Linked DNA regions of Homo sapiens. The protein of the gene in region 3 purifies or fractionates together with the protein of the main gene of each other region. This does not show direct contact. Each region holds a gene or a part of one and is shown on either strand. Other genes may lie near its edges.

The links.
Region 1: the proteins of EFL1 (region 3) and TLN1 fractionate together in Homo sapiens (co-fractionation; one large-scale study listed by BioGRID). This does not show direct contact.
Region 2: the proteins of EFL1 (region 3) and ACTR2 fractionate together in Homo sapiens (co-fractionation; one large-scale study listed by BioGRID). This does not show direct contact.
Region 4: the proteins of EFL1 (region 3) and NUDT5 fractionate together in Homo sapiens (co-fractionation; one large-scale study listed by BioGRID). This does not show direct contact.
Region 5: the proteins of EFL1 (region 3) and UFM1 fractionate together in Homo sapiens (co-fractionation; one large-scale study listed by BioGRID). This does not show direct contact.
Region 6: the proteins of EFL1 (region 3) and PANK4 fractionate together in Homo sapiens (co-fractionation; one large-scale study listed by BioGRID). This does not show direct contact.
Region 7: the proteins of EFL1 (region 3) and TPD52L2 fractionate together in Homo sapiens (co-fractionation; one large-scale study listed by BioGRID). This does not show direct contact.

What each region holds. Positions count from the first base shown.
Region 1 is NC_000009.12:35,725,696-35,729,195, reverse strand, and holds part of TLN1 (talin-1), read left to right. Parts: intron 1-3,468; 5' UTR 3,469-3,500. UniProt on the Homo sapiens protein: High molecular weight cytoskeletal protein concentrated at regions of cell-matrix and cell-cell contacts. Involved in connections of major cytoskeletal structures to the plasma membrane.
Region 2 is NC_000002.12:65,230,831-65,234,330, reverse strand, and holds part of ACTR2 (actin-related protein 2), read right to left. Parts: intron 1-3,500. UniProt on the Homo sapiens protein: ATP-binding component of the Arp2/3 complex, a multiprotein complex that mediates actin polymerization upon stimulation by nucleation-promoting factor (NPF).
Region 3 is NC_000015.10:82,147,735-82,151,234, reverse strand, and holds part of EFL1 (elongation factor-like GTPase 1), read left to right. Parts: intron 1-3,500. UniProt on the Homo sapiens protein: GTPase involved in the biogenesis of the 60S ribosomal subunit and translational activation of ribosomes.
Region 4 is NC_000010.11:12,168,392-12,171,891, reverse strand, and holds part of NUDT5 (ADP-sugar pyrophosphatase), read left to right. Parts: intron 1-983; coding exon 984-992; intron 993-1,121; coding exon 1,122-1,175; intron 1,176-1,933; exon of another isoform or gene 1,934-2,564; coding exon of another isoform or gene 2,565-2,634; intron 2,635-3,500. UniProt on the Homo sapiens protein: Enzyme that can either act as an ADP-sugar pyrophosphatase in absence of diphosphate or catalyze the synthesis of ATP in presence of diphosphate.
Region 5 is NC_000013.11:38,352,851-38,356,350, reverse strand, and holds part of UFM1 (ubiquitin-fold modifier 1), read right to left. Parts: intron 2,113-3,500; coding exon 2,055-2,112; intron 1,341-2,054; exon of another isoform or gene 1,280-1,340; intron 1-1,279. UniProt on the Homo sapiens protein: Ubiquitin-like modifier which can be covalently attached via an isopeptide bond to lysine residues of substrate proteins as a monomer or a lysine-linked polymer.
Region 6 is NC_000001.11:2,516,597-2,520,096, forward strand, and holds part of PANK4 (4'-phosphopantetheine phosphatase), read right to left. Parts: intron 3,359-3,500; coding exon 3,205-3,358; intron 2,729-3,204; coding exon 2,547-2,728; intron 2,002-2,546; coding exon 1,920-2,001; intron 1,669-1,919; coding exon 1,568-1,668; intron 1,298-1,567; coding exon of another isoform or gene 1,286-1,297; exon of another isoform or gene 1-1,285. UniProt on the Homo sapiens protein: Phosphatase which shows a preference for 4'-phosphopantetheine and its oxidatively damaged forms (sulfonate or S-sulfonate), providing strong indirect evidence that the phosphatase activity pre-empts damage in the coenzyme A (CoA) pathway.
Region 7 is NC_000020.11:63,875,270-63,878,769, reverse strand, and holds part of TPD52L2 (tumor protein D54), read right to left. Parts: intron 2,955-3,500; coding exon 2,895-2,954; intron 1-2,894.

The DNA.
Region 1 (3,500 bases), on a different chromosome or scaffold from region 3:
TTGGAGAAGTATTTGAACAAGTATTTAACATCTTTGAGTCTGTTTTCTGATCTGTAAAAATGGAAATAATGACACCTACTGTAAGGATTAAATGAAATTATGTATACAATGCAAGTGACATAGTCAATAAATGGCAGATCACTATTGTTTTTTATTATCTCTATTTTTTAAAATTCTAGCTTCAAATGATACTTATCATGGAGACTTTTTGGTTCCCCTTCCCTGACCTAAAGGGATCTCTCTGAGCACACACCTTTTGGCTCTTACCACATCCTGCCCTCCGTTGTGATTCTGTACTTGGCTTATTCACTCATCTCGTGGACTGGGAGCCCTTTGAACTCAAAGGCTAGGTCTTACTGATCTTGGTCCCCAGCCACTGAAAGTTTGGCCCAGGGTCTTCCCCACAGCTGGCCCTCAAGGAATGCTTGCTGGGTGAATGGAGAATGTCTACATAATGGGAGGAGAGACACTGGGTGCCGGGTGTGCTTGTTATGGAGGTTATCTGTGCAAAAGCTGTGTGCATAGGATGGGCTCCCTAGGAGAAGATAATGCAGTCGTGATGGGATCTGTGTGGGGGCTGTGTGATTGAGATAATGTGTGTATAGAGAGAGTAAGGTAGCTTTGTGGGAAAGAGCTCTGCCTAGGCTGGGGTGCATCTGGGGAGAATGAGTGTGCATTTGAGTATGGAGGGGCTGTACCGGGGGAAGTTCTGTGCAGCCCTTCAGCTAGCTGCCCAGTCCAGCTCTAAATGAGTCTCCAGCAGCCTGAGGCCGGATATGTCAGTCTCACCCACAGCCCTCCCCCACTGCCAGCGGTTGCGGACTCAGAGGCCAAATTTGGTAACAGACTGAGTGTTACTCCCCCATCCCTCTTATATTCTGACTGTCTTAAGCTCTTTCCTTTTGTTCCTGTCTGTAACTCCCTATCTTTCTGCAATTCCCCTTGTGGGTATCTGCTCTGACTATATTCTCCAAGTACCCCAACTTTCTTAGCTCCAATACTCTTACATTCCATTCCTTGCTGGGATTTGACCTCCTGTCCTCCATTCCCCCCCTCCAATTGCCCAACTTCTTTGGAATGCATCGCAGGAATGTATTGAGGGAGGAGGAGTTCCCTGGGAGGGGGACACGGCAGTGGGGAGTTGCTGTTCCATCAAACACAATGGAAAAGGGAGCAAAGTTCTCAGGCCAAAGGAGGAATGAGCTAGCTTCTACTCATACTTGTAGCAGCCTTGTTCTTTGCCACCACCACCCACAATTCACTGATCAGTTCTTCGCGTCCACACACCCTCTTGTAGCTGTGTGAATATCCACTCTGGACCAGCTGGGGAGTAAGGGTAGGCATGACTCAGCTCCCTTATCGGGGTCTCACCAGAGGCTTCCGTGCTTGAGGAGGAAGGGGGTGTCTAAGTGTCCAGAGGAAATGGGGGGAGACATGCAGTTTCAGCTTAGTGTGAAGGGTCCTTTCAGTCCTGCTTCTTGGCTCCACAGACTCCTCCAGCTTCTCGGATCCACCAGCCCAGCCCTCATTCTTTCATGGTCAGCAACCCCATAGCCAGGTCTGTCCAGCTGGGACACAAGCGGATAGTAATAAGGTTGGGCAAAGTGCCCCAGGAGTGGGGAGGGGGCAGAGAGCTGGAACTGGGGAGACTGGGAGGGTCCTCTCTTATTGGGGAGTAAAGACAGAGAGCTGTGGTTCTTCTCTTTTGAGACTCTGGACTGCTTGTAAGGTCAGAAATGGTCTATCTGCCACTTGGTACCAGACCGCTGATCTAGACCATTTTCATACCTGCCTCCTGTCTCTTGTTTCTACTTAGATTTTCAATTCTCCTCATCCCATCTCTCCTAACTTCTTTACCCTCTACCCCTTCTTAACTTCCCTGGCTTTCAAATGCCTTCTGTATCCTAACACCCCCATCTCTGCTTTCCAGCCTTCCCCTCTCACCCTGCTTTTCCCCATTTGAGGCTTGTAGTTTGCCAGGAGGGGAATGGGCAGCTTGTATTTGCCCATTCTCTTAGTTAAGAGGCACCCAATCCCTGTACCAAGCAGGGGCACATCAGCAGCAGCCGGGCAGACTTGTCCTCTTGCAGCCTGTGCGCCACCTGCTGCCTCCAGTGCCTCCTCTAGCCTGCTGAGAGGGGGTGCCAGGAGGGTGGAAGAAGGTGGGGTAGGACTAGTATTCTGAGCTGCACTGAAAATACAGTCAGGGGAAGTGGGTGAGACAGAGCAGAATTCGAGACAGACTTGCTGAAGAGGAGAAAGCATGGGAGGAGTTGCAGGACTGAGTATTAACTTGATGACTTGGAACAAGCAAGGACTGAGTTACAGGGACTGGGTCCTTTCTCTGGCCTGTCTTGAAAATGTTTCCTGGCCTCCCAGAGTCTATTTCCCCTTCTCCAAAACACAAGAGTTGACCAGATAACTTCTGAGATAGATCCCTTTGAGTTAGAGAATCACATTTCTAGCTTGACTGCCTGGGAAGCCCAGTACAGGGCTAGGCTCCTTCAGAAGGCCCCCGCATCTCAGGTTAGAAAAAAGCTGGGGCAAGAGCGGACCCCTGAATGGCTTGAGCAACCAGTATTTGGTCTCCCTGCCAGGCTAGCTAGAGTTTGTTTGCAGGCTTCAAGAGCCTTAGGGAATTATAACATCTTCATTTTGCAGAGAAGGCAGCTAAAGCCATGAGAAGGAAGGTCACGTGGTGAGAAGAGAGCTCTGAAAATCCCGGACAGGGAAGAGCCAGCAGGACACAGCAGGAGACAAAGAGAGAAAAATACTGAACCAGGCAAAAATGAAAAGAAGGCAGGAGTAGGGCTGAGAAAGGTGATCAGGGACAAGGGGCAAGAGAGATACTTGGATGAAAGTAGGGAGGTACAAATTCCAGTGGTGGGGCAGGGCAGTGTCCTCAGGTAGCACTGCATTTCAGACCTGCTATTGTACCTTGCAGACCAGCTTCTCCTTTCCCTCAGATGTCTTAAATTGTTAGGACTTGGCCGGGCGTGGTGGCTCACGCCTGTAATCCCAGCACTTGGGGAGGCCAAGGTGGATCACGAGGTCAGGAGATCGAGACCATCCTGGCTAACATGGTGAAACCCCGTCTCTACTAAAAATACAAAAAATTAGCCAGGCATGGCAGCGGGCGCCTGTAGTCCCAGCTACTGGGGAGGCTGAGACAGGAGAATGGCGTGAATCCAGGAGGCGGAGCTTGCAGCGAGCTGAGATCGCACCACTGTACTCTAGCCTGGGCAACAGAACGAAACTCTGTCTCAAAAAAAAAAATTGTCAGGACTCATTCTTTTGATGTAAATAATTTTTCACTCTTTAAAATTATTAAATACAATGAAAACAACCTTATTACCATCTACTTTGGTGAGTCCCTTTCAAAAACACTCTTCCCTTGGACTCCACCATCTGGGGGGCCTCTTCTCCCACCAGAAGAGTGTATTCTAATGCCCTGATGCCATGGGTCAGGTATAGCCAGGCTGGAGAAAAGAAGCTGCCAC
Region 2 (3,500 bases), on a different chromosome or scaffold from region 3:
CAGCACCAGTTTTCATACAGGGTATATATTCATCCATCAAGATAGCAAAAATTGCACTATTTCACATTACTTCAAAAGTGAAAACATTAACAGTTATAATAACAAGAACTAAAATAATTGGCTGGGAATGGTGGCTCACACCTGTAATCTTGGCACTGTAGGAAGCCAAAGTGGGTGGATTGCTTGGGCCCAGGAGTTCGAGACCAGCCTGAAGCTACAGAGCAAAACCCCATTTCTACAAAAAATACAAAAATTAGCCAGGCGTGGTGACACACACCTGTAGCCCCAGAAACTCGGGAGGCTGAGGTGGGAGGATCACCTGAGCCCAGGGAGGTTGAGGCTACGTTGAGCCTTGAGCCATGATTGTACCACTGCACTCCCACCTAGGCAACAGAGTGAGACCCTGTCAGGAAAAAAAAAGGCTGAGTGTGGGGGCTCACACCTGTAATCCCAGCACTTTAGGAGGCCAAGGCAGGAGGATCATTTGAGGTCAGGAGTTCGAAACCAGCCTGGCCAATATGGTGAAACCCCATCTCTACTAAAAGTACAAAATTGGCTGGGCGTGGTGGTGCATGCCTGTAATCCCAGCTACTTGAGAGGCTGGGGCAGAAGAATCACTTGAACCTGGGAGGCGGAGGTTGCAGTGAGCCGAGATAACATGAATACACTCCAGCCTGGGAGACAGAGTGAGACTCTGTCTCAAAAACAATAATAAAATAAAATAATTAAAAAAAAAATTATACTGGCTACTCTGGGCACACTGCCTATGGGGTAGTCCTGCTCTGCAAGAAGCAGTAAAGAAAAAATAAAAATTATAATTTTTAAATTATATTATTTTTTGTGGAGACAGGGGTCTCGCTGTTGCTCAGGATGGTCTTGAACTCCCAGCCTCAAGCAATCCTCCCACCTTTACCTCCCAAAGTGCTGGGATTATAGGCATCAACCACTGTGCCTGGCCCCAATTTTTCAATAATATAAAACTGACAATCTGATTACTTCTGCAAATAATAATAATAATCAGTATTAAAAAAAATCTAGACTGGGCGCAGTGCTCACGCCTATAATCCCAGCACTTTGGGAGGCTGAGGCAGGCAGATCACCTGACGTCAGGAGTTGGAGACCAGCCTGACGAACATGGAGAAACCACATCTCTACTAAAAATACAAAAATTAGCCTGGCGTGGTGGTGCACACCTGTGATCCCAGCTACTGGGGAGGCTGAGGCAGGAGAATTGCTTGAACCCGGGAGATGGAGGCTGCAGTAAGCCAAAATCATGCCACTGCACTCTGGCCTGGGCAACGGAGCAAGACTCTGTCTAAAAAAAAAAAAAAAACTAAACCATGATGTGATAAAATACAAAGAAAACATTCCTTTCTAAACTATCATTTGGTATCATTGGTATCATCTTAATCCTTGAAATTCCTCCCCCATGTCAATCATTTTAAGACTTGGTGACTTCGTTCTTTCATTGTGTGCAGTAAGGCTGTGTTTAAGAAATAGATTTTACCATATATAGTTTCCTCTTCACAGCAGTGTGGTTTAAACTAGTTCCCTTACTTCCCACTGAGTCATCAAATGGTAAGAATATGAACAGTATAATGTTCTTTCAAGCAAAAATGAAAAATTCTATCTACATCTGCTCTAAAAGTACATTTTTTTTTTCTCTTCAAAAAAATAATAACCTGGGATTTATAAAGCCCCATTTGGGCTTATTTAATATTTATTTTCCCCTTACTAATTTTATCTCATGGTACTGATGTTCTTTAGTAAGTTAACTGCACAGTGACTGTTCTGATCTTAGGCCACCAAAATATTTATTCTACTTATACCAAAGCATTTTGCAAGATGAAACCAAATTTGGTTTTGGTTTGTTTCTGTTTCAAACACTCCTAAATTCAACATATAAAGTAGCATAAGCCCGATAAAGCAGGCCACAATCAACTACAAATGTCAATTACATAAATGCAAATGCAATTATTCTAGCACTATAAGCTTCTCTGTACGACTGGACCTTATTAAGCACTGTGCCAGCAACATAGCACGCACTGGAGAAACCTTCATTTTGTTGGTGATCTAACTCAATGCTGATGAAATCACCCTAGTCTGGTAACAAGACACGTAACACCAGGGGCCTGGGCCTAGCTCGTGAAGAGGACCTAAACCTAGAGTTTCACAGACCTCCAGATTTTCACCTATCTGGGCCACTTTAAGTGGCTTGATTTCAGAAGGAGGTTTGAATGGTTAAAATCCACATAAATTATTGGATCAAATGAGTTTTCCTCCTCTGGGCAACCCTACTGAGACACTGGTCAAGCTGGGAGATAGAAAATCAAGCGGGACCAACATTGGTCATGTGATCGTAAGTACAAACTTGTTTCCAGGCAAACTTGTCCAACCCATGGCCCACGGGCTGCATGAGGCCCAACACAAATTCACAAACTTTCTTAAAACATTATGAAATTTTTTTGGTGATTTTTTTAGTTCATCAGCTATTGTTAGTGTATTTCATGTGTGGCCCAAGACAATTCCTCTTCCAATGTGGCCCAGGGAAGCCAAAAGACTGGACACTCCTGTCCTAGAATATTTAATTTGGGTCTGCCAGAGAGGTTAAAAGAATCGTAACTTTTTAAAAAGCCTGTAATTTTATTTTTATTTTTACTAGATATGGGGTCTTGTTATACTAACCCAGGCTAGTCTCAAACTCTTGGCCTCAAGAAATCCTCTCACCTCGGCCTCCCAAAATGCTGGAAATACAGGCATGAGGAACCACACCCAGCCAGCCTACAATTTTAAAACCTAAGGCATGTAAGGAGCAAATGAAAACACCTTAGGATAACAACTATTTCCATAAATTTGCAAAATTACATCTGAATATCTTCTTTAATATTTAATTATAAAGGAATCATTATAACTTCAGGTATCTAAATAAAATCAAGATGATTATTCATGTCTACAAATGGTAAGAAACAGAATACACAATCTAAGCGGTTCCTAGTCCTCTACATACTCAGAACTATTACAGCATTCCTGTTATATGATTCATGTATTTTAACAGCACTGTTTCTTCATTTGAAACCAATCATGTCCATAGAAAATCTGCATAAAATTTTAAAATAACTAGAAGCATAAGAACAGATAAATTTTATTTGAATTAATTACACTCACTTTTTTCATTTATGACAGGAATTGATCACTTGTCTTAAGGAAAAGAATCTTAAAAACATGGATTAGACACAAGACTAATCAATAACATACTACAATCAGCTTTTTTTTTTTTTTGTGACAGTCTCACTCTGTCGCCCAGGCTGGAGTGCAGTGGCGTGATCTTGGCTCACTGCAACCTCTGCCTCCCAGGTACAAGTAATTCTCCTGCCTCAGCCTCCCAAGTAGCTGGGATTTCAGGCATCAGAAACCACACCCGGCTAATTTTTGTATTTTTAGTAGACACGGGGTTTCACCATGATGGCCATGCTGGTCTCAAACTCCTGACCTCAAGTGAA
Region 3 (3,500 bases):
TTTTGTGTTTTTTGTAGAGACTGAGTTTCGCAACGTTGCCCAGGTTGGTCTCGAACTCCTGAGTTCAAGTGATCCACCCACTTTGGCCTCCCAAAGTTCTGGGATTACAGGCGTGAGCCACTGCACCTGGCAGACCCAAAAATCTTAAACTCGTTTAGTATGTTTTGCAGAAGCTGTACCATCTTCTGATTTACTAACAAACTAAGATCTTTGAAAGCCAGATATCTTAAGTATTAAAATCTTGAGAGGGGAAAAACATGACTACTAAAGATCTTTTCTTTTGCAACAAATAGAATCCTTTCCGTAATGAGAGGTCTGCTAAATGAGGTTTAAACTGCTCATATGTGTTACCATCCAAACCTGTGCCATATTTTATCTCAAGCAAATAACCATATCAGTCTGGGTAACCAAAGTTGTTCTGAAAATGATCAAAGAATAAGGCAACATTCTTGTACTCATAACACAAAAGGGCTTTTGTGAATTCTGGGTTCTTTCTGAGAAAGAAAATTATTTGGGGCTTTATTCACTGCTAACCATTATATCAAATCCTATTCCTGATTTTTCTCTCTTTGGGAGAAGCAACCTTTAAGATCCCAGGAGACATGAAGCCCTGGCACTTAGTAGCTCTTTGGACTTTTCACTGGTATTAGTTCACTGAGACTTAGTTTCTTTACATAGGTAAAGAAAGGGGATAATAATTCATACAGATTGTGAAGATTAAAATAACACAATTTTTTTAAATACAGTGCCCAGAACAGCACCTGGCACACAGTAGTTCTCTTATTCTCTCAAGATCATGGAACTGTTTCAGTAGTGAAGAGAATATAAAGGAGGATTGAGCCCTGGATGAGAGAATCGGCCAAATTATTAAGTTTCCTCTAACCCTGAGGCCCTTTGAGTCAATATGTGGTTAATTACATTCTTTTTAGGAAGGTTCTTTTGCTGATTAATTCCTGAAAGCAGAAATCTAAGTTTGTTTGTTTTTTTTCCCAAAAGAAATTTAGGCTTCCATCACATTAAGGTTTTTGTGAGACTGAGCGTCATTAGCAGCATTTGAAAAATAGCTGGGTTAAGGCCAGTATGCATTGTGAATCAAATCTCCAAATACAGCATGTCATATACAGTGCTTTTCAACCTTATTTGAATATAGCATGCCTATTAACAGCCATGGAATTTGTAGATTTGTTTGGGAAACACCAATCTAGACTATTCTCAGATGCTATTTTTCATTTTCATTGAGAACTTTCTTAAGGCGGAAGTAAGAGTTAAAATCAAATCTTAATCCCTCAAATCTTTGAAGAAGACCTAAGAGCTTTTCTCCAGCCTCTCCTACCCCGACAAATGCTTATACCACCACTATTTGAATACTTCTATTGATGGCCAGTGCACAGCCAGCTTCGTGATTTAATGGTGTTTTTTTCTATATTGAGCAAAATGTCTGTCACCTGCTAGTTTCCAATCATCTGTACCACCATTCATCTCTCTTCCATGCAACAACTCTTTTATGTATTTGAAATAAATCATTAGTTTTCTAGTTTTATATCCAGGAGAAAAACTCCAAATCCTTCACCTGTTTTTCTGTTAGGATTTCTGTATCCTTTCACCATTTCAGTTGCTGTCTTTTGGACATAATTTATTTGGTCAGCATCCCTCTTAAAGCAACTATATTTGAACACAGCACCTCACATACCCTCCAACCAGTAGAGAACATGTCTGTGTCTACACTGTTACCTCCTACATGAAATACAACATTCTTCTTTTAATGAAATTTAACAATTACGTCTTCTCATTAATTCATATGAGAAGTCAAGATCAACCCTATTTCTTTTTTTTCAAAACAAAGTTATGTTTTCCCACTCTGTTCCCCAAAAAGCAGAATCCAAATTTTTGGTAATTGACTAGACTGTAGAAATCATGTAGTTGTATGAACTCCTATATTTATTTGTGTATGAGTACTGAGTCTATACACTTAATTTTTTTCTTATGAGTACTGAGTCTATACACTTAATTTTTTTCTTAAGTTATATAACATAATTAGCATTACAACAGTAAACAGGAGAAAAATTTTAATGGCAAGAAAAAGAAGTCACATCACCACCATCTTAACACATTGATTTCTTATTCATTTTTTTCATGTGTCCTTGTCTGATGAGAAATAAAACTCAACAGGTAGAAAATCAAATGTTTCGATGAAGTTACGGTCCTTTACATCTATAACAGTCCCCCAATTATCAGCTTACCAATCATGTTAGAAAAAAAAAAAGCTTAGGTTAGTATTTTGTATTAGAAAGTCCATGTTGTCTCCCAAGATTTACCTCATACTTGTATAAACATGTACAAATGTCTATAGTGTTTCCTTAAAATTCTACAGAAAATTAGCATATGGCTTTCTAGTCTGCAATTTATGGAACGCAGTGTTTATATCCTCAAAAAGTTTAGTCATTATTTACCTTTTTCCTATAGTCTGGCACCTACCTTACTATTCATAATTTCTCAAAAGGGCAAATTCTCTTATTATGGTGAGATATAATTCTGGTCCTGGAGACTTGAACTCATTTAAGAAGGCCAAGCACTTAGTCATCAACTGCTGAGCTACCGTGAACTTCAGTGTTCTCCCACTTCAACTTGTTCCACTTGCTATAGTTTGTTCACCATTCTCCTCACTGAAGAGAAAGATAGGTAACATAGGTATTGCGAACCCCTATTTTCTTGCTATCCTCTGTAACATGATACTAGTTTCTATAAGTTGTAGACAAGACATGTCTCCTTATTTTGAAAGTATAGGTTGAGTATCCCAAATCTGAAAATCCAAAATCCCAAATCATCTAAAATTTGAAACTTTTTTTTTTTTTTTTTTGAGATGGATTCTCACTCTGTCACCTAGGCTGGAGTGCAATGGCATGGTCTCAGCTCACTGCAACCTCCACCTCCTGGGTTCAAGCAATTCTCCCACCTCAGCCTTCCGAATAGCTGGGACTACAGGCGCATGCCACCACACCTGGCTAATTTTTATATTTTTAGTAGAGACGGCATTTCACTATGTTGGCCAGGTTGGTCTCGAACCCCTGACCTCATGATCCATCCGCCTCAGCCTCCCAAAGTGCTGGGATTACAGGCGTAATCCCACCCTGCCCAGCCTTTATTTTTTAATTTGGGATGCTCAAACAGTATATAATACAAATATGCCAAAATCTAAAAAAATAAAAAATGTAAAACACTTCTGGTCCCACTCATTTTGGAGAAGAGATATTCAACCAGTATTGGAAAAAGCTCTTTGCACTGTCTTTAGCTCTTTTACTTTGGTACATACACTCAGCTTGTTTTGATTTTGAGCATCTTGGACATGCTACTGATCCACCTGAGTTGGTATCCTCTTCTTCCTTCTACTGTGCATGTCCTCTTAAAATAGGGGTTGAGGAGGGGCTTTCTTCCTTCTTCTGTCATTGAGATCATTCATGATTGATTTCTTTTAGACTCTCATTACTCTGCAAAGGAATTTT
Region 4 (3,500 bases), on a different chromosome or scaffold from region 3:
TTAGCCAGGCATGGTGGTGCGCACCTGTAATCCCAGCTACTCGGGAAGCTGAGACACAAGAATCACTTGAACCCAGGAGGCGGAGGTTGCAGTGAGTCAAGATCACACCACTGCACTCCAGCCCGGGCAACAGACTGAGACCCTGTCTCCAAAAAATAAATAAATAAATAAATAAATAAATAAATAAATAAATAAATAAATAAAATAAATCTTAATTTTTGAACTGCACATATACATATGAGACACTGTGGAAAAGTTTGGCAGTTCCTCAGCATATTAGATACAGAATTATTATATGATCTGGCATTTCATCTCCTAAGTCTACACCCAGAAGAAGTGAAACAGGGACTCATATACTTGCGTGCCTGTGTTCATGGCCGCCTCTGTGGAAACAACCCAGGTGTCTGCCAGCAGATGAATGCATCCACAAAGTGTGGTATACACACAAACACACATACACGCTGAAACATGCGATAACATGATGGGCAAATACTCTGATTCTACGTATCTGGGTGCCCAGAATAGACAAACTGATAGAGGAAGACAGTAGAGTAAGCGCTACTAGGGATGGGGAATTAGTGTTGAGTGGATCCCGAGTTTCTGTTGGGTGTCATGAAAAGTTCTGGAGATGGATACTGGTGGTGGTTGTGCACCTTTTTGAATGTTATTTAATGCTACTGAATTGTACCTTCATAGTGGTTAAAAGGTAAGTTTTTATATGTTCTGTATATTTTACATAATACGCAGATTCATATCTATAAAAATATACATACTATCGAATATGCTTTAAATTTTGCTACTTAACATTATGTGGAGAACAATAACTTCATACTGCTCGAGTTTGACAATGTATATAAATTAAGTTAGCAGAAACCCAGGCTTCTGTGAAATTCTCAAAGCCTTTTTGACGCCTCTTGTATAAAAGTCTTCCGATGTTACCACTCCAGGCCTTGCTGAAATGTTTTCCTTCTGTTTATTTCCAGGGGATGGAGGTATGTTCTGCAACTCCTGGTGGCCGAGCGTGTATGACTTAGTGTAGTGGTGATGGCTGCAGACATTTTGGGTTGTTTTGGTAGGCTCTTGACGTTAGCTTTGTTTTCACTTGCACTTTGTCTGTTTAGAGTTTGTGGAAGTCATTTCTTTACCCAAGAATGACCTGCTGCAGAGACTTGATGGTAAGCATTCTCCAGACCGCCACCCAGTTTCTCCAGTTCTCCCCGTCCCCATCCCAGCAAACTGGGTACTAAATATAACTCCATTTCTTTATCTTTTTTGTATCACTAAAGTCAAATGCCTAGCAACTTGTAAAACTGCAGGTGACCACTACTAATTTTCCTTTCTGGGTGGCACAGAGTTTGAAAATAAGAGCAAAGCATTCTGGGTCAAGTGCAAACTTTTGGTAGAGGCTTTTTCTCCTACAGAATGGCCCAGATGACATTCCTGCTGAGTAGCCAAAACGATTCTACACTTTAAACCTTCAGTCCATAGCAATGCAAAGGTGTGGGTAGATAAGCTGTTAGCTTTTCCTCAAGTATGCTAGTATGAGGGATGGTCCTTTGTGGAGGCTGTATGTTCAAGGAGAAATTGATGATGCTCCTTCAACAAATACTTGAGGTATTTCCTGTATACTCCGTGTGATATGCTTTTCACATAATAAACCAAACCAGCTGTGTGGCCCTTAGAAATCACTGGTCATGTAGATGCATTGTATAATTCTTGGCCACCCATCTTTTAGAGACTTTGTAAACAGTAAGCTTATGGGGAGAAAAGTCCTTTGATAAAACCACGAGAGGAGATACTGTATGGAGACATGAGGAGATACTGTGTGGAGACGAGGAGATACTGTATGGAGACATACCATGGGCCCTTCAAGGAGCACCTCTGTATGGGCTGGCAAATCCCTTTCACTCATCTAGAAAGAAGCAGACACTTGTCATCATGGGAATATTTTATTGGGTATAAGTGTTTTAGGTAATTGATAACTGATTTTTCTACTGTTTTTAAGTGATTACTTCAAATGTGATTTGAAGCATTGTTTGGCCTGAAGCTTTAAGACCAGTTTCTTAAGCTTTTCCCTGAGTTTCAGCAGCTTACGGTTTCAGTGAATAAGCAGAGCGCCTGGTTTTGAATTGTCTGTTGTTTGTTTGAAAATCTGAATGTGTCTTTCAAAGGCTGCTGTGATTTCTTTGGATAAAATCAGATTTCGTATCCCTTAGAGAGCTTCCACTCCTGCTTCACCTTTCCAAAAACTAGACCTAAGGTAGAAGCCACCTCGACAGCTCAAAGCCAGAGTTAGAACAATCATACTGAATAGATACAATAGTTTATCTGGTGCGTATTTGGAGAAAGGCATGACAATCAATACGAGGCAGCGCAGCTCGGAGTCACAGGCCCGACTCGGTTTGAGGCTCCGCGGACCATAATTAGCTATCACATCAAACAGGTTCTGTAGCCTCTCTCGGCTTTTTTCATAAAACAGGAACAATAACAGCCCCTCCCTCTGAGGAGGTGCGTGGAAAGCAGGGTGACGTAGGCAAGTGTGAAATGCCGTGCGGGGTTATCTTTTAGTAGAAGAGTATCCTTTTTGTAAAATGTCTTCCTTCTCCCTTCCACCTTCTTAACTTCACTTTTGGTCTTAGAAAAGGGAGAAAAAAATAGAATAAGTGAGGGGAGGTGGAGAGAGGGCTACTATGGCTATAAAGGAGGAGGGGTAAAAGAACCAAGTTGCCTAGCTTTAGCAGAATCAAAATACAGTAATCAAACCGTTTATTCAACCAGCAACATTTGAGAAGTCGGAAGGAAAGTATTACATTTTAAGATCAGTTTGCTGGCCGGGTGCGGTGGCTCACGCCTGTAATCCCAGCACTTTGGGAGGCCGAGGTAGGCTGATCACTTGAGGTCAGGAGCTCCAGACCAGCCTGGCCAACATAGTAAAACCCCATCTCTACTAAAAATACAAAAATTAGCCAGGCATGGTGGTACATGCCGGTAGTCCCAGCTACTCAGGAGGCTGGGGCAGGAGAATCGCTTGAACCCGGGAGGCGCAGGTTGCAGTGAGCCAAGATCGTGGCACTGCACTGCAGCCTGGCGACAAAGTGAGACTCCATCTCAAAAACATAAAAAAAAAATTAAAAAAAGATCAGTTTGCTACAAAGAGTAGCATCTGCCAGTTACCAAGCACCTGCTGTGCCCAGGTGAGTAGGACATGCTTCCTGCCTGCAAATGTCCCCAGGCTTGTTCCCAAACAAGCGGCTAGGAAAACAAGAGGCTGATTTTACATCTGGCAACCTCCATCTGAGTGAAACAAATTTTAATGAAAGCCTGTGGTAATAAGGTCCTGAGACCGCATTCTTGGTAGTAGATCTCCAGTCCTAACATGCACACAGTTTAACTTGCCGGGGGAACATATGTATCCCCTAGCAGCAGAAAAGATGGAATCCCTAAGATCCTACATAATCATCACCATCTGGTTTCAGAAAAGCAAAGCCCTACCCCAGCTA
Region 5 (3,500 bases), on a different chromosome or scaffold from region 3:
ATGAACTATATAGGCCTCTCAGATTTCCAAAGCTAGAGTACTACAAAGTTTTTAGTTACCCTACTGATTGAGTCTTTTACATCATGCCCATTTTAAGATAATCTATGTATTTTCTTAGTCACATCCATGTAGTAGCAACCTATAACTTTAAAAACCAAAAGCAATTGCTGACACAGTTTTCCCTTTAGGCAGAATGTGGAAGAAATGGTTAAACCATGAGGAGGCATCACTGGTGATGTAAAATGTAGAATCTATTCCTTTTTGTCCTACAGTACTGACAGGTTTTCTACTGAATGCAAAGTATTCTTTTATGGTCTTCTGTTTTCATTTATTTTCCTCCTCCGATCCCCCATAATTCTTATAATTTAGGGCTCTTTGCAGGTTTCAACAATTCATTACTTACCCCAGTCATGTGCTGGGAAATTTTATTATTGCTTACTAAGGCAATTTTACGAGGGATTTAAATCCAGACTCTTGCTTTCTTGAGTCAACTTTTGTTCTCACTGAATGATTCTACAATGTTATCTTGTGAAAGCCCCTCTCACAACGATCTGAAAGTCATATCCTTTCTAAATATGTAACACCTATGATTCATAATAGTGATCCTTTTCCACTTAATGAATAGTAAATATACTTTCTCTTATGGTTTTCTTAATATTTTCTTTTCTGTAGCTTACTCTACTGTAAGCTTTACTTATAAACTACCTTAATCAATATATATGGTTGTGTGGTGTTTCTTATTCACTACTGTATGTTAAGATTTTCTTCTATTTTAATTAGAAAACCAAGATCACAAAAAATGCCTTTGCATTATAAAGGACACACAATGAGTAACTAAAAAATATAACAAATATTAAATAAAGCTTATATAGATCTACTTCTTAAATCTGGAATTTGTGGATTCTGTTATGCCCCAGACTAGAATATTTCTTGCAAGTAATCTGTGCAGCAAAAAGTAATGACAATGCTATACTCAGATTTGTGTCCCATCTCATTTTACTTATTCTTTCTGCATGAAGAATCTATCAGACACAAAACAAATGCTACTAGTTGGCAGTTTAATTCTGAATGAGTGACAAATAATGTTAGTGATTCCTGACAATACAAGGAGCTTTGAGCACTGATGGATTGGCTGACTTGCCATAAATCAGTGAAGTACAGGGCAGGATTGTGTGTTAAGCTATTTTTTATTAATGTAGTTAAGAAAATTATTTTTCTGTGACTATAAACTTTTCAAAAGATTCTGAACCAAAACGTTTTGATTTGGGTTACAACGTACCTGTTTAGCACTTTTAACTTCAACAGAAAATTTCAGGAAATAATGTTTTTACTCGAAATCACTTGATCAGAGAGGAAGGACAGGTATTAACTACTTCCATTTTGCAGAATAAAAAAGAGGGATTTGCATCATGTCACATAGCTAACTAATGACGCACCTACAACAGGAACCCTAAGTCTCCGAAGTCACATTTGGGTGCCATTTCTAACAGATCAAGCTACTTTTTCAAGTGTCATGTCCAAAAAGTTGCATTATAGATATTTCTAATAATTTTGGATGAAAAAAATTGTTTCTTATGAAACAGAAAATTCAAACATGTTTTAAAAAACTAGAAACTTTTCAAAACAACAAATTTTACTGACAGTCCACATGCTCATATAGAAAATTTGAAAACTATGATAAAGATTCTATGAAATTGCAATTTTGGAATCAAGACTAGTAAAATATGAGTATATAGAATATAATGTGATATAATGTTGCATTTTAAAAAACATTTAAAAATCAGCACCTTTTTAGTTTTCATAAAAATTCTCATAAAAATTCATTAAATTCTTATAATTTTCAATGGTTGCATTAATCAGATATGTCAATTTGTTTAACTCATGCTTCTTATATCTGAAAGTAAGTCTTAACTATCATCCTACTTTTTGATAACATAAACCTAGTAATGAAGCCACATGGAAATGATGGGTCAAAGTGCATGCAACTCTTAAAGACATTTGAAGCATATTGGCAAACCGCATTCCATAAAGGTTGTTCCAACTTCTGTACTTACTTCTTCTGCTGCAAACTTTAAGACTGCTGTGAAAGGTGTACTTTCAGGAACACTGAGTCTGCAAGAAGAATTTTAAAACAGTTTCTTTTAAAGTCACCATTTTCTAAAAAAGCCCCTTTGTTCCTTATTTCCACTACTGTAGCCAATCTGGACAAAGCTGTCTTTTCAGTTTCAAAGTTAGTGATTTTGATTGCATACTACATTCTTTAACTCAAAATAATAATAATAATAATAACAACCCAAACAGCAAATAGCCTTAGAGCTGGGATGGTGCCCGAGCTCCACTTGAGAATTAACCTTTAAGGTGTAGATTTATATATTTCTAACACTTTCATACATGTAAGTCTAGCATATGAACTGCTGTTTGTTTCTAGAGATGGATTTCAAAAAGGTGAAGCTCTCCTTGGTCTTCAGTCCACTTTACCTCCCATCTAAATATCTATGCACTTGACCCAGTAATGTTATCATTTTCATTATAAGTAGAAGGCTACTTGGGAAGCATCACTGGATCATAAAGCTTTTGATGAACCTTCTGTGTACTCTTAATAATCATGTTCAAAATTAGTAGACCAAATTAATGAAAATGCATGAAGTTCATTATGTCAAAATGCCAATAATGAAGTGATTTTTCTACCATCATTTAAAGTGGGCTAAGTAAAATGTGAAATAACATTTTGGAGAGGGATGAGTGATTTTGTTAACTGACTCATATAACGGCAAGTATTTTAAAGATCATGAATAAATATATTTTTTTTTTCTTAATGACTTAGTCCCAGGGTCAATCTGTATGAACTTTCCAATAAAAAAAATCAAAACAGAAATTTACTTTATACCTTAAGAAAACACTTTAAGACACAGTAAGAGGTTTTTAAAACTTCTTTTAAAAAATAAGATCCCTAAGGTAACATAAATTACAATGAGTGAAAACAGAAAACAATCTTTCAAAGCAGAGGAGACTTACAAGCTAACATTTCTCACTGAAACTTCTCTATTTGTCCACCATATTATTGTATTGTTCTTAAGTGTCTCAATACCAGCTACCATTATTCTCATGTATATGCCCAGGCTCCTCACTCAGTCTACAGATCTCTGACTATAAGAATCATTATAACAGGAACAGCATATGGTACCAGTTTTCAGTAATAGAAATGTGAATAGATTTCTTGGCTGCCCTCATTCCACAACTCCAAAATACTATTAAAGGATGAAAATGGGTATCATTTTTACCCTTTCTTTACTAATGTTTTTGGGGGGTGGAAAAAAATAAAAACATATAAAGGATAGCCATTTGTTTAAAAACTAACGAACTGGCAATGTCATAGTTTACAAACTAGGCAACAGTATTTTACAAAGTATTTTTGCAGTGTATATGTAGTTAAGAATCTGAGATTCATTTTCCTAAAACTCTGCATCAATTGGAGAACTTCTAAACCCTTGGAGTTCAAT
Region 6 (3,500 bases), on a different chromosome or scaffold from region 3:
TGGGGCACCCCTGCTGGCAACCCCTGGGGCTGGAGAAGCAGCCTCTGGGTGGGCAGGGACCTCCAGAGCAAAGGGGACGCCTTCCAGGTGGGAAGCCCATGCCGGGCAGAAGCTCCACGTGGAAAAAGCCAGTGACTTCCCAAAGCCAGTGCAGAAGGCGGCAGGAGCCCCACCTTAACTACCACGGACCACAGCCGGGATCGCCTGGTGCTGCCTTGCCAGGTCGCAGGCTCCTTCTATCCTGACAAATGGGTTCAAATCTTCGCTTTGACTTTTTTGGACAATATAAACTGAAATAAATGACTCCATCTCTCTGCATGTCAGTTTGATCCTCAGTAAGGTGGGGGCCCCTCCTGCCTGGCAGGGCTGTGCCACTGGTGGGGTACCAAATAGGTAACAAGCGCCTCCTGAACGGGGCCCCCGAAGCACTGTGGCCGTCCACGCAGTCACTCCAGGTTACAGTCCAGGACATTTGGCAAATTATGCACACTTGGCAAATCAGAAACTGAGGCTGGAAGACACCAAGCCCCTCTGCCCAACAGCAGGGCAAAAGCTGAGAGCCTGGGGCTCTGCCAGGCCCCCAGAGCCTCGCCCCCACTCCCCTGCCTAGTGCTGGCGGTGGGAAAGGCAGACCAGGGCTGCGGCCAGTGTGGTGCGTCTGTGCGAGGCCGTGGCCTGGTGTGAACTGCAGGACCCACACAAAAGGGAGGCGCCCTCCTGAGAAGCCAAAACTCAACAAGTCGCGGTCTTGAAAATACTGACACTGAACCCCATGTCTACAAATGACAAGCAACTTCCTGCCAACAATGCCAGCGGCCTGTCCTGAGGGGTCCGACTAGCTTTGTGCGTGACCTCAGGTTAACTGCTCACAGCTACAGAAGGAATGAGCCCCGCGGGGGGGCACGGTCGAGGACCCTGACAGCCTGTGACACGGGGCGGTTCCTGCCATGTGGGGCTGTGCTGGGGGCATCCCGTGGCTGACGCAGGTCCTGGCGGGGGACCCTTCCGGAGCAGCTCCAACTCGGCAGACATGGGGTGCGTCTCCTAGCCCGCCAGTGCCACCCAGCTCAGGCCAGGGCAAACCCACTGGGGATCCAAGGAATGAGCCGGGACACCCCGAGGAGAGCAGACTGTAACCGACAGACCATCAGCCACAGTGCGCGGCAGTGTGCGGCAGAGCGCGCAGTCCTAGGCAGGGCCCTGGGTGGCTCCTGCGGTTTCGGGTTTCAACTCCAAAGTGGACGGGCCTTCTGGCGTGGGGAGAGGTCCCCGTCACCCCTGAACTTTAGCAATCTCTCTGCAAACAAGAAGGCCGGATCACACAGACTCCGTAATTCCTGCTGAATGTTTCCAAAATACGAAAGCACCCAATGAGGGAGATGGGAAAGCAAGCCACAGTGTCCTTCTCTTGCCCCTAGTTATACCCCAGGTCCATGGGAGGATTCGCCATGGGCAGAGGCGCCTTTCAGCCGGGACAGCCACAAGAGGCTTCGCTCAGGGACAGGCGAGGTGAGTGCGGCATAGGCTGCTCCCCTGGGGCCCGGGGCGGCCAGAGCCCACTACTCACAGTGCCACTCCGCGCCCGCTGCGCCGGGCCGAGCTCGGGTGATGCACTCATCAGCCCGGAGCTGCCTGCATAGTTCTCTCCCCAGCTGTACTGGTTAGGATCTGGAAAGCAAGAAGCCAGGTCACTTGTGTTAACCTTGCCCTTGATTCAAAAGCAGGAGAGTGGAGGAGGAAAGGGTATAAAATCGCTTATTAACTAAATTGTTAAAATGTTAGACATGCCTGCTGCTGTCACTTTCTGAGGACTCACGCTCCCCACCCCACCTCCACCCTGGGCCGCCCTGGCCTGGAGCACAGGCCCAGGCCACAGCTGAGGCCCCACGCTGCTCAGGGGCGCCAGCACCGCGACTCACTGTCCTGCTCAGCTCCTTTCAGGAACGCTCCGATGGCTCCCAGGTAGCCTTCGTGCCTCAGAAACAGCGCCTGCACTTCCCCCTGCCGTGGCCAAAGCACACGTGCTGCTGTTGGCCCCACACAACACCCGGTGCCTCCGCAAACCAGCTCAACGTGCGCGGGCCTCGCACCGCGCGGCCCAAACCCTCGAAGAGGCGCCATGGCACCCACGGCATACTTGCCAGTGGAATCGCGCCTGGCACCAGAGGGCGGGCTGCTGTTTGAAGAAAGCTAAGGGTGAGATAGCTTCTCCCATGCAGCGAGTCCCTGGCCCACAAGTCTCTGCGTCAGGCATGTGGGTGGGCGTGCCTCTGCGGGGGCAGGGGCACCCTGACCCCAGCGCAGATCAGCAGGCCTGCCTGGAGCTCTCTAGAATGCTCATCACTGGTGATGTACTCAAACTCAGGTGGCCACGGTGCCACAAAATGTAGGCTGCCCAGAATCAGTCAGAAGGGAGGGGTGCTGGGCTTCTTGGCCCCCACCCTCCAGGCCTCCCTGGGGGTGCTGCGGTGTCTAACCAGCATGACTGATTGGGAAGATCCTGGGGGGTCTGCGTTAGAGGCTGGGGAGGGCGGCGCATCCGTTACCTTGGAGAAGAAGTTGATGCTATAGGTGATGGTGCGCATGGTCACGGGGTGGCCCCGGATAAAGAAGCCTCCAAAGTACACGCGGTCCAGGCTGTGCAGCCGTGCGTGGAGGCAGGCCAGCTGCCCAATGTCGTTGCTGATCATGTGCAGCAGGCTCTTCGCCATGTCTTCTTTGGAGAACTCTGAGGAAGGGAAGGAAAAGGCACTCATCTCCAAGTACAGCAAGTGCACGACATGAGAGCGAGCAGGAGGGGAGGGGGAGAGAGAGCTGAGTGGGAGGGGAGGGGGAGAGAGAGCTGAGTGGGAGGGGAGGGGGAGAGAGAGCTGAGTGGGGGAACTGGAGCCCAAGTGCGGGAGGCTGCGTGTGATGTGTGAATCATTCCTGGACGGATTAAGCTTTGTTTTGAAGGAGGAAAAAACCCAATCAGGAAACTATTTTTTCTTCCAAAACCAAGACCGTGGCGTTTATCTGCCGACGTTCTGAGCAGTGGGCCTGAGCTGCAGCGACTCGGCAGGAAGAGGTTACAGGGCTGACACCCAAGACCCCGACTCTCCAGGGAGCAGTTGTGGGAAAGCAATGGTGGGGGAAGCTCCTGTCCGTGAGACCCCAAGTGTCCCCACCATCCTGCTCTCTGGCGGCAGAGGCCGGGGTGAGCACCTTGGTCGGCGGTGGCCGACTTCCCGAAGCTGCTGGCGATGAGGTTCCCGCTCAGCCCGAGAGTCTGGTGGGCGCCGCCGTAGACGTCCCGCACCAGCATGTCCACATTGCTGTGCTGGCCCCTCGAGGCCAGGTGCAGGAGCTCGTCAAACTTCTGCAGGACACGGCGAGGGGGCGGGTGAGGCGCCAGGAGCTGCTGGAATCCCCACGACCCCAGAAACCAAGCCCATGGCAGGAGGCACGCGCGGGCAGGGGGTAAATGGGCCCTCATCGCGTGGGACCAAAGGCAGGAGGCG
Region 7 (3,500 bases), on a different chromosome or scaffold from region 3:
CAGACAGCGGTTTCGTCCCACTGCCAGTGAGCTGTCCCCTGGGCAGCACAGGGCATCTGGGGGACATCCTTGCACTCCCCCTCTCCTGAGTCTGTCTCTGGGGGCTGCCCCCACTCCCACTCAGGATGGACAAGTGATCCAGGCCTGGCCAGAGCACACCACCTCCAAGGCCGCAGCCATTAGTCCAGGGAGACCCATATGGGGCCACACTGTTGGGCTGCAGCAGTGGGGGCAGGGACTTCTCTGCCTGGTGAGTGCTCCCACCTCCCTGTTTGGTTGATGCTACCTTGAGTCGTGCTTTCTGTCACCTGCAACCAAAACAACTCCAAGTGAACCAGCTCATAACTGCAGGATCTATATGATGCCCCTCTCAGCACTGAGGTTTTTAGTTACCTCTGCCTATAAATAGAATGCAACAGGCAATTGTTTCACCACTCGCAGAACACAGCTGCTCTCGCATTCAGACATGACCCACTGAGAATGTGGCCGCATTGCAGCCTCATGGGGCCAGGCACCAGTGCTATCCTCCACCCACCGGCCACGTTCTCCTTCCCGTCCATCCTCCAGGGCGCCAATAGCTGAAAGGATCTACAAACACGTGGGTCAGGATGCAGGGAGCTTTTACTGCCTTCCCCTGCAGAGCTCTGGGCAGTGGAGGTACATCTACAGCCCATCTCCTGAAGCTGACTAGGAGAGGCACCAGCCAGGAAGAGCACGCGCCATGGCCACATCCTCAGGCCCCACCTCCCAAGCCGCATCCCTTCCGTCTGGGCCGTCCCGGCAGAAACCACCGCCCTCGGCCTCGGCCGTCCCGGCAGAAACCATCGCCCTCGGCCTGGGCCTTCCCACCAGAAACCATCGCCCTCGGCCTGGGCCGTCCCGGCAGAAACCATCGCCCTCGGCCTGGGCCTTCCCGGCAGAAACGCTTCCACTCTGGAACCGTCAGTTGACAGCTCTCGCCACAGAACTCAGGGGAATGGCCTCGGCCAGGTGATGCACTGGCCATATGCTTCCATGCTGAGCCACAGGTTTCTCCAGAGGGGTCGGGACGCTGAGTGTTGTAATAAGCTCTCTAAAACACTATTTATTTGAAATAGGATCCCGGCAGCTTTATGTCAGTTGGTTTTACAAAACAGCACTGAAGTCTCCTAAGACTATTTTCAGACTGAGTCTGCACTGTGCGTCCGCCTGATGCCCAAACTGCAAGGATGACCGTCACTGTCCCAACCTAGGAACCATCTGCTGCCCAGCAAAGTCACTGTTCAACAGCCCGAGACACAGCCCACCAGGGTCCCTAGAACACCCTGCTCAAGCCGGGTGCAGTGGGTCACGCCTGTCATCCCAGCACTTTGGGAGGCCGAGATGGGCGGATCACGAGGTCAGGAGATCGAAACCATCCTGGCTAACACCATGAAACCCTGTCTCTACTAAAAATACAAAAAATTAGCCGGGCGTGGTGGTGGGCGCCTGTAGTCCCAGCACTTTGGGAGGCTGAGGCAGGCGGATCACGAGGTCAGGAGATTGAGACCATCCTGGCTGACATGGTGAAATCCTGTCTCTACTAAAAATAGAAAAAATTAGCCGGGCGTGGTGGCGGGCGCCTGTAGTCCCAGCTACTGGGGAGGCTGAGGCAGGAGAATGGTGTGAACCCGGGAGGCGGAGCTTGCAGTGAGCCCAGATGGCGCCACTGCACTCCAGCCTGGGAGACAGAACGAGACGTTGTCTCAAAAAAAAAACCAAACAAACAAAAAAAACCCAGGGCAACATGCCATGAACCACCCGGGTCCCCAGAGCACCCAGATGTACAGCTGGCTGCTGTAGCCATGCCCACAAACCGCCCGGGTCCCTGGAATACCCAGGGCAACATGCCGTGAACCGCCCGGGTCCCCAGAGCACCCAGATGTACAGCTGGCTGCTGTAGCCATGCCCACGAACCACCCGGGTCCCTGGAATACCCGGGGCAACATGCCGAGAACCGCCCGGGGTTCCTGACACCAGCCTCCCACCGTGACACCAGACGCAAAGGCTCCATGTGCACGCAGTGCCAGCCTGGTCCCCCAGGACCTTCAAGACAAGCTCGGCAGCAACTGCTTCCTTTCAGACCAACATGGGAGGACTTTCTGCCCATGTTCTGTGGCAACGATTACAGCGCTTCCTTCTAAATAACAGATGAAAAAATCCCACAGAGACTATTTAAAAATATTCCCCTCCTCAGTTTAAAGACGTTATAATCAGATCAGAGCACAAGTAAATGAAGTGCTATTATCTAGTTTAAGGATCTCCAAATATTAGGAGTCACTCTGAACAACACCACTGACACACACATACAAAACTATCCACACTTGATCCACACTGGCTGATGCTCTGACAATGCAGTGCCTCCCAGATCGTGAGGATTTCAAATTTCCACCAGCATATCCTACACCATGCCCTCCACTCAAGAACTACCCCTAAAGGAGGAAAGGAATTCTGAGAACCCAACAGCTGGAGCTAAGCAGGGAAAAGGGTTAGGGTTAGAACAAACAAAAATTCGCCACCAACAAACCCAGGCCAAGTGGTGTTGTCCAGCTTGTGCACTGCCGGAAGCCAAGGAGCTCTATTAGTTAGAGATACAGCCAGGACCAGTGCAGGCCTCTTACATAAGGGACGCATATCAGGCAGAGGGGAGTTTTAAGTGTGGTCAGGTGGCTGAGTGAGTTTCTCTCAGCTACTATTCCCTGTTCCACAAAAGTTTAAAGGATAGTTTACCTGAGAGAAGAAAAGTTATAGGAAGAAAAAATAGCCAGCAAATACCAAAACAAGCTTTGTGCCAAGTGTGCACAGCCCCCTTCCCCGACTGAGTGTCAGGAGGCGGAGAGGAGGAAGGAGGAGGTGCTGATGATACAGGCACTCACAGGTCTGACTGGGTCACTTTCTCATTCCACTCTCCAAGTTTCTCAGAAGTTTTCACATAGCTAAAAACAGAAAGTCTACAGTGAATTATTTAGAAGAACAATTTTAACTCAGGCATCAAACTGCAGGTGAAGTTCCAGGGAAGACAGAGAGGGACCAGCTGGCAGGAACATCAACTCCACAGACGGCCCAAAAATGGGGTCCACTGCCTCAACCAGGCCCTGTGCAGGCCCCAGGCCGCCAGGTGAGCTGTGGGTATAGCGGAACTGATGTTCCCTTTTCTGTCACCTGGCAGTAGCCCCTGGTCTCTCGCTAGGAGATTCTTGGGCAACAGCACTGCTGTGGGGGACTGGAAGGGCACAGCCCACAGCTCCAAAACACCCTTGGGATTCAAAACTTACGATGTCCTAGGACAAAAACATGGGCCTCTCATATGTGAGATTTATGAAATGTGACCTGTTCTGTCTTTGTATAGGAACATGTCTTCTGGGAAACATTCCACAGCCACCCCAACCTTGAAGGGTATGTTTCAGAGAAGCCACGTGGACAGGGCCAAGTGAGAAAGCAGCACTCCCCAAATTCAGAGCTGAGCGACATCTGGGACAGGT